2 separate regions of the Homo sapiens genome follow, and region 2 is linked to region 1. The links come from fine-mapping of genetic effects on gene expression. A gene starts in region 1. The other region holds a variant in brackets. All regions are shown on one strand. Distances are between the middles of the regions.

What was found. PIP is the estimated chance that this variant, and not a neighbour inherited with it, causes the effect. A credible set is the group of variants that fine-mapping cannot tell apart.
Region 2: its variant is the best candidate, but not a certain one, in a credible set for the expression of CEP41 in whole blood (TOPMed, PIP 0.89).

The regions. Positions count from the first base shown.
Region 1 is chr7:130,439,358-130,442,273 of GRCh38, reverse strand. It overlaps CEP41 (centrosomal protein 41), which reads left to right and starts at 1,258. Exons shown (of 11, transcript NM_018718.3): 1 at 1,258-1,340. The coding sequence starts at 1,308. LOC105375505 (a long non-coding RNA gene) reads right to left here and starts at 520. Exons shown (of 3, transcript XR_927973.3): 1 at 1-520. RefSeq lists an enhancer at 818-1,572.
Region 2 is chr7:130,686,371-130,689,286 of GRCh38, reverse strand. TSGA13 (testis specific 13) reads left to right here and starts at 2,742. Exons shown (of 8, transcript NM_052933.4): 1 at 2,742-2,916. The variant C/T (reference allele first, on the strand shown) is at 1,536.

The sequences.
Region 1 (2,916 bases):
CAGAGGAGTGAGAGACTGAGAATTTTAGAGGGGTTAAAGAACTGGCAAAGATTATGGAAATTAAGACAAAACTTAATAAACATGAAAGAGTGACATGAAAAGTCCAAGAAGCAGCTGTGGCCAGAATTCAAAATTCTGGTCAAGCAGCACTGACTGGCAACATGATCCAAGGTGTAGCCCTAAGGTTGGGTTGCTGAAGTGCCTAAGAGAACAAGGGCATGTGAGGCCATGTTGTTGAATGGGTCATCTCACAGACCCTGAAGTAGCTCAAATGTGTGCTATTATTCACTAACAGACAACTGGCGAGTATGAACTGCTCAGAGTAACCTTTCTCCATTCCTGGAAAAACAACTTAGAGCAAAGGACAAAGGGTTACTGTGTTGTTCCTTTCATGTAAAAGGAAATAATAATTTTGATGGATTTGGTGGGACATTTAGGAGCCAAGTCAAACTGTGTGTGTAATTGTTTTGTAAAGGTGCTAGGACTTCATTTTCAGATCCGGAATGGGAACAGGTGGTGGCTGGTGGCAGGAGTCACAATGGTTTCCATGACGACGGGATTGGGTCCTAGTCATCCTCCCATTCTCCACAAGACCTACTGCAGCTTTTCTCATAAGGTGCTTATTAAGTATTTGTTAAATGAACGATGAACCACAGAATAGCGCGTGTGCTTTGCAATTAAGGATGTCGCTCTATAGCTAGCCTAAAAGCTTTTAAAGCACCGATAATTACTGTATTTACCCATGTATTTTGCATAATTCGCATATTAACTTAACCAGAAAATAATAAACCATACTCTCCCATTTCTGCTGAACAACCCTGGCCCATATAATATTCCCTGTTGTGGAATCAGTAGCCCAGATGTTTGGTTGAAACGGCCATAAAACGGAGCTGGGGGATGGGGAGTCTTGTGTTGTATTTATGGTTCCACATTAGCTAAAACTCGTGTTTTGTCCCGGCTCTCAAGCCACTGCCCCCGCCCCCGGCTTTGCGCAGGCGCCAGCCTTCCCCTCCCCCCGCGCCTCTCTTCCCGCCCTAAGGCTGGAGCCGGCGAGCCCCAGCCCAGAGAACAAAAGGCCTCGCTAGCCGGCGTCCCGCGTTGCCCTTGGCAACCATTGAGCGGCGTCTTGCCCTTCTGCGACCCTGAGATGAGAGAGTAAACGGGGCCCCCATTGGCCGGCCGGGGAAGACGGGCCAATCGGAGAAGAGGGTATAGGGAGGCGGCTGAACAAGGTTGTGGGGGTAGGAAGCTAGGGTTAGAGGCAACCCGTGAGGCTAGAACCCCGAACGTGGTCGGTTGGAGAAAATATGTCCCTCCGGAGGCACATTGGGAACCCTGAGGTGAGGGCCAGGTCTCGGCCGGAGAGCCGGAGGGGGCGGGCGCACCGGAAAAGGCTCATGTGGGCAGGGAAGAGCAGCCAGCGACTTCCGCCGCCCGGAAGGCGGGAAGGGGCCGGCGTGAGGAGGGGTCGGGATGCAGGGGCGGGGCGGGCCGGGCTTGGGGGCCGCGGGGCAGCGTTCAGGACCCCGTTTTGAGGAGCGATCTCTCCCCGCGTACGCACGCCAGTACTTGTGACTGCGAGGAGCGAAGTACCCAAAGACACAGCCCTTGCCCTCAAATGGCTTACAGTCTCGGAGTGACAGTTACAAAACAGAAAAGACAAAGGAAGCGCTGCACACTAATGGCACGTGTTGAAAGCCAGCCAGCATCTCTGATTGTGGGGATACAGGAAGAGCAGGAGTAAGCTGACCAAACCTTTGGAAAACGGGCAAAATAGGACATTAGGCTTACCCCTCTCTCCATAGGACCCTTCAGTTTCTTCATCTGTTTCACCGCTAGTCCCCTGCTGCATTTGTGGCAGTTTCAACAAACGTTATTGGAAACTTCCACGGTGCAGTAGGTGCTAGACGTACAAAGAAGACAAGGCCTCTGCCCTTTAATAAATTGCGTATAGTGGACCAGGCGCGGTGGCTCAGCCTGTAATCCCAGCACTTTGGGAGGCCGAGGCGGGCGGATCACGAAGTCAGAAGTTTGAGACCAGCCTGGCCAACATGGCGAAACCCCGTCTCTACTAAAAATACAAAAATTAGCCGGGCGTGGTGGTGAGGCGCCTGTAATCCCAGCTACTCGGTAGGCTGAGGCAGGAGAATCGCTTGAACCCAGGAGATGGAGGTTCCAGTGAGCCGAGATCGTGCCATTGCACTCCAGCCTGGGTGATAAGAGCGACTCTGTCTCAAAAAAATAAAAATAAACAATAAATAAATTGCGTCTAGTGAAGGAGCCTGTGAACAGAATTTGAGTACAGTGTGGTCGGGGAGCAAGATGTTACGAGAAAATAGGTAGTACTCAACTGAGGGAGTGAGAGAAGGGTTGTGGAGATGGAAGGGGTGGCAAGGCCATTCATTAGCCAGGTGAAGCATCATCCCGGGTAGAACAGCCCAAGTGAAGGTAAGGAGTGTGTGAACTCAGAACAGGCCCCTGTAGGAGTCCAGGCTTTCTCTGCCTTGCTGAGGTTCTTAGCCTTTATCCCAAATAGGAGTTGTAACTGTTTCATCTCTTGGTGGCTGCCTGGTACTAGGCTGAGAAAGCTGTAAGGCTGAGTCTAAGCCCTGCAAGAGAGCCATGGTCAATTGGTAATGTCTAAATGCTGCATGATCTCACTTATACGTGGCATCTTAAAAAGTCCAGCTCATAGAAGTAGAGAATAAAATGGTGGTTACCAGAGCCTGGAGGGTGGGGGGAAGGAGGGCAGAAATGGGAAGATGTTGATCCAAGGGCACAAAGTTACAGTTAAACAGGAGGAATGGTTTTTGAGATCTCTGGCACAGCATGGTGACTATAGTTAATAATAATTACAGCAGACTCATAACCCCCAGTAGAAAATCCATGTACAACTTTTTACTCCCCTCCCCCCTG
Region 2 (2,916 bases), 250 kb before region 1:
AGAGGCCGGGAAGTCCAAAATCAAGGTGCTGGCACATTCAGTATCTGGTGAGGACCGGCTTTTTGTTGTGTCCTCACATGGCAGAAGGAGTAAAGATGTGCTTTTGAAGCCACTTCTATAAGTGCACTAATTGCCCCCACAAAGGCTCCACATCCTAATACCCTCATAATTAGGGACTCAGTATCAACATATGAATTTAGGGAGGCAGAGGACATAAACATTCAATCTATAGTACCAAACCTGTCTCTCCTGAGCTCCAGTCCCATATTTTAAACTACTTACTAGACAACATCCTCACCTCTGCCTCATACTCAACTGACCAGAAACAAAATTCATCATTTATCCCCCAAACTTGCTCCATTCCCTTTGTTCTCTAATTTGGTAACTTGCACCTCCATTAACTCAGGTAACAAAGCTAAAAATGTGATTATATTCCTTATCTCATGTATTCAACTAGTTACCAAGTTCTATTAATTCTACCCTCCTAACATCTTTCATATATCCTTTTTTAACCCTCTTCACTGCCACTACCTTGCTTTAGAGCAAGCTTGTCCAACCCATGGCCCATGGGCCACACGTGGCCCAGGATGGCTTTGAATGCAGCCCAACACAAATTCAAAAACTTTCTTAAAACATTATGAGTTTTTTTTGTGTGATTTGTTTTAGCTCATCAGCTATTGTTAGCGTTAGAGTATTTTATGTGTGGTCCAATACAATTCTTCCAACGTGGCCCAGGGAAGCCAAAAGATTGGACACCCTGCTTCAGAGCCCATATTAGGTTTTTTTTTTTTTTTTTTTGGTCATAAACTGCAGAAATGAACCCTAAGAAAATAAAGGATTTATTTGAAAGAATATTAGGAAAGCTCACAGAACTGAAGAGAAAATTGTGTAGTCTTGCTTTAGGAAGGACTAGATCTGGGGCAGCTCCGGGGACCTCAGCAGGTAGAGCTCAGAGCTCAGAGTCTTCCAGCCTGGGATACCACATGAGGTGGCTCAGGTGCAATCATCTTACAGCTCTGTGGGTCATTAGCAAACTTTCAAATTCTTAGTATAACCTGGTTGGCCACCTTTGAATCAATCATCCAGAGCTAGGATGCAGGAGTGAATGGCACTAATTGGTGATGGCTATAGACCCTTATAATTTCTCAACCCCTCCTCAGCACTGTCATAGACTTCTCAAGGACCTCTTTGCATCTTTCTAATCTATAGTTCTTCTGTCTTTCCAATCTATAGTTCACATGCCACTATTTTTGTATTTCTAAAATATATATTGTTCAATAAGGAGATTATACCTCATTTAAAATCTCTTGTTAGCGCTTCATTACTCAGAATAACCCACAAACTTCCTATCAAATAGTTCATTTTAGGATTTGGATCCTGTCTTCCTCTCTAGTCTCACCTCTCACTACCCTTCCCCTAAATCTTATGTTCCTGGCATATTGCAATTACAGTATTTTCAATTCCCCTAAATAAGCCAGGCTTTGTTGTATTCTCATGTTTTTGCCTCTGCTTCTCCCTCTTTCTCAAATGTCTGT[C/T]CTCTCATCACCTGGTTAATTCACACTCATCTTCCCCAGCTCAGTTTAGGCAGTAGTTCCAAATCTCTCTCAGTCTCTTCTCAGTATGGGTTAAGTCCCCTTCCTCATTGCTTCCATAGTACCCTAAATTTAGATCTAATTTGGCATTCTACTCTGTTGCAATCAACCGTTTCTTTGTCTCTCTTCCTGGCTAAACTGTGAGCTCCTAAAGGAGCTCAAGAATTACATCTGATTTATGCTTTGTTCTCATCACCTAGGAGAGTGTCTAATATGTCATAAATGTTCAGCAAATATATTGAAATAAGCAAACACTAGTTTTGAATGCATAAGATACAAAGCACTGGGAGGGGGGCACAAATATGTTTAAAATTTACATTTCCACTTTTAAGGGACTCACAGCTTAAGAGGCAGACAAGACCCGCACATAAGAAAAGTGAAAACAGAACTACAAGACACTATACAATGACATGCACAAAACCCAGTGACTATAGTCTAGAGTTTGGGATTGCATTAATCTAGAAAATCTTCTCTTTAAAGGAATGACCTGAGTAGTAACATAAAGAAAGAAGATTCAGGGCTGGGCATGGTGGCTCACGCCTGTAATCCCAGCACTTTGGGAGGCTGAGGTGGGTGGATCACAAGGTCAAGAGATCGAGACCATCCTGGCCAACATGGTGAAACCCCGTCTCTACTAAAAATACAAAAATTAGCTGGGCATGGTGGCAGGCGCCTGTAGTCCCAGCTACTCTGGAGGCTGAGGCAGGAAAATCACTTGAACCAGGGAGACAGAGGTTGCAGTGAACTGAGACTGTGCCACTGCACTCCAGCCTTGTGACAGTGTGAGGCTCCGTCAGAAGAAAGAGAAGGAGAAGGAGAAGGAGAAGATTCAAATGGCTGAAGAGATTGGGGACAGCATTTTAAGTATGGGGAATAAGAAAAAATGCTCACTGTATTTGAAGAATGCAGTGAAAACATTGGCTTAGGTAGAGGTAGATTAAGAGATGGTGAAGATGTGTGTGTGTGTGTGTGTGTGTGTGTGTGTGTGTGTGTGTGTGTGTAGAGAAGTCATAGGCTGGCAAAATAAGAGATTGGCAGATTTTGTTTAAATATGCCTTTAAGTTTTGGCCTTTTCATTCTCTGTCTCCAACACAGAACACCTCAGCATTCTAGATTGCCTATTCATCACAAATTCCCTCTGTCTCCTCCAGAATCCAGAAAAGAATAATTACGATATTTTCAAAATGGAAAGTTCCCATGCCAAAGACTTTGCCTTCTTCACCAAACTATGATTTCGTGATGTTCTTAAAGGTAGTGTACACCAGGTTTTTACATTCTTATTTTGAATGTAGTTTTAGTGTTTGTGTGATTTGTTTTTCAGCCT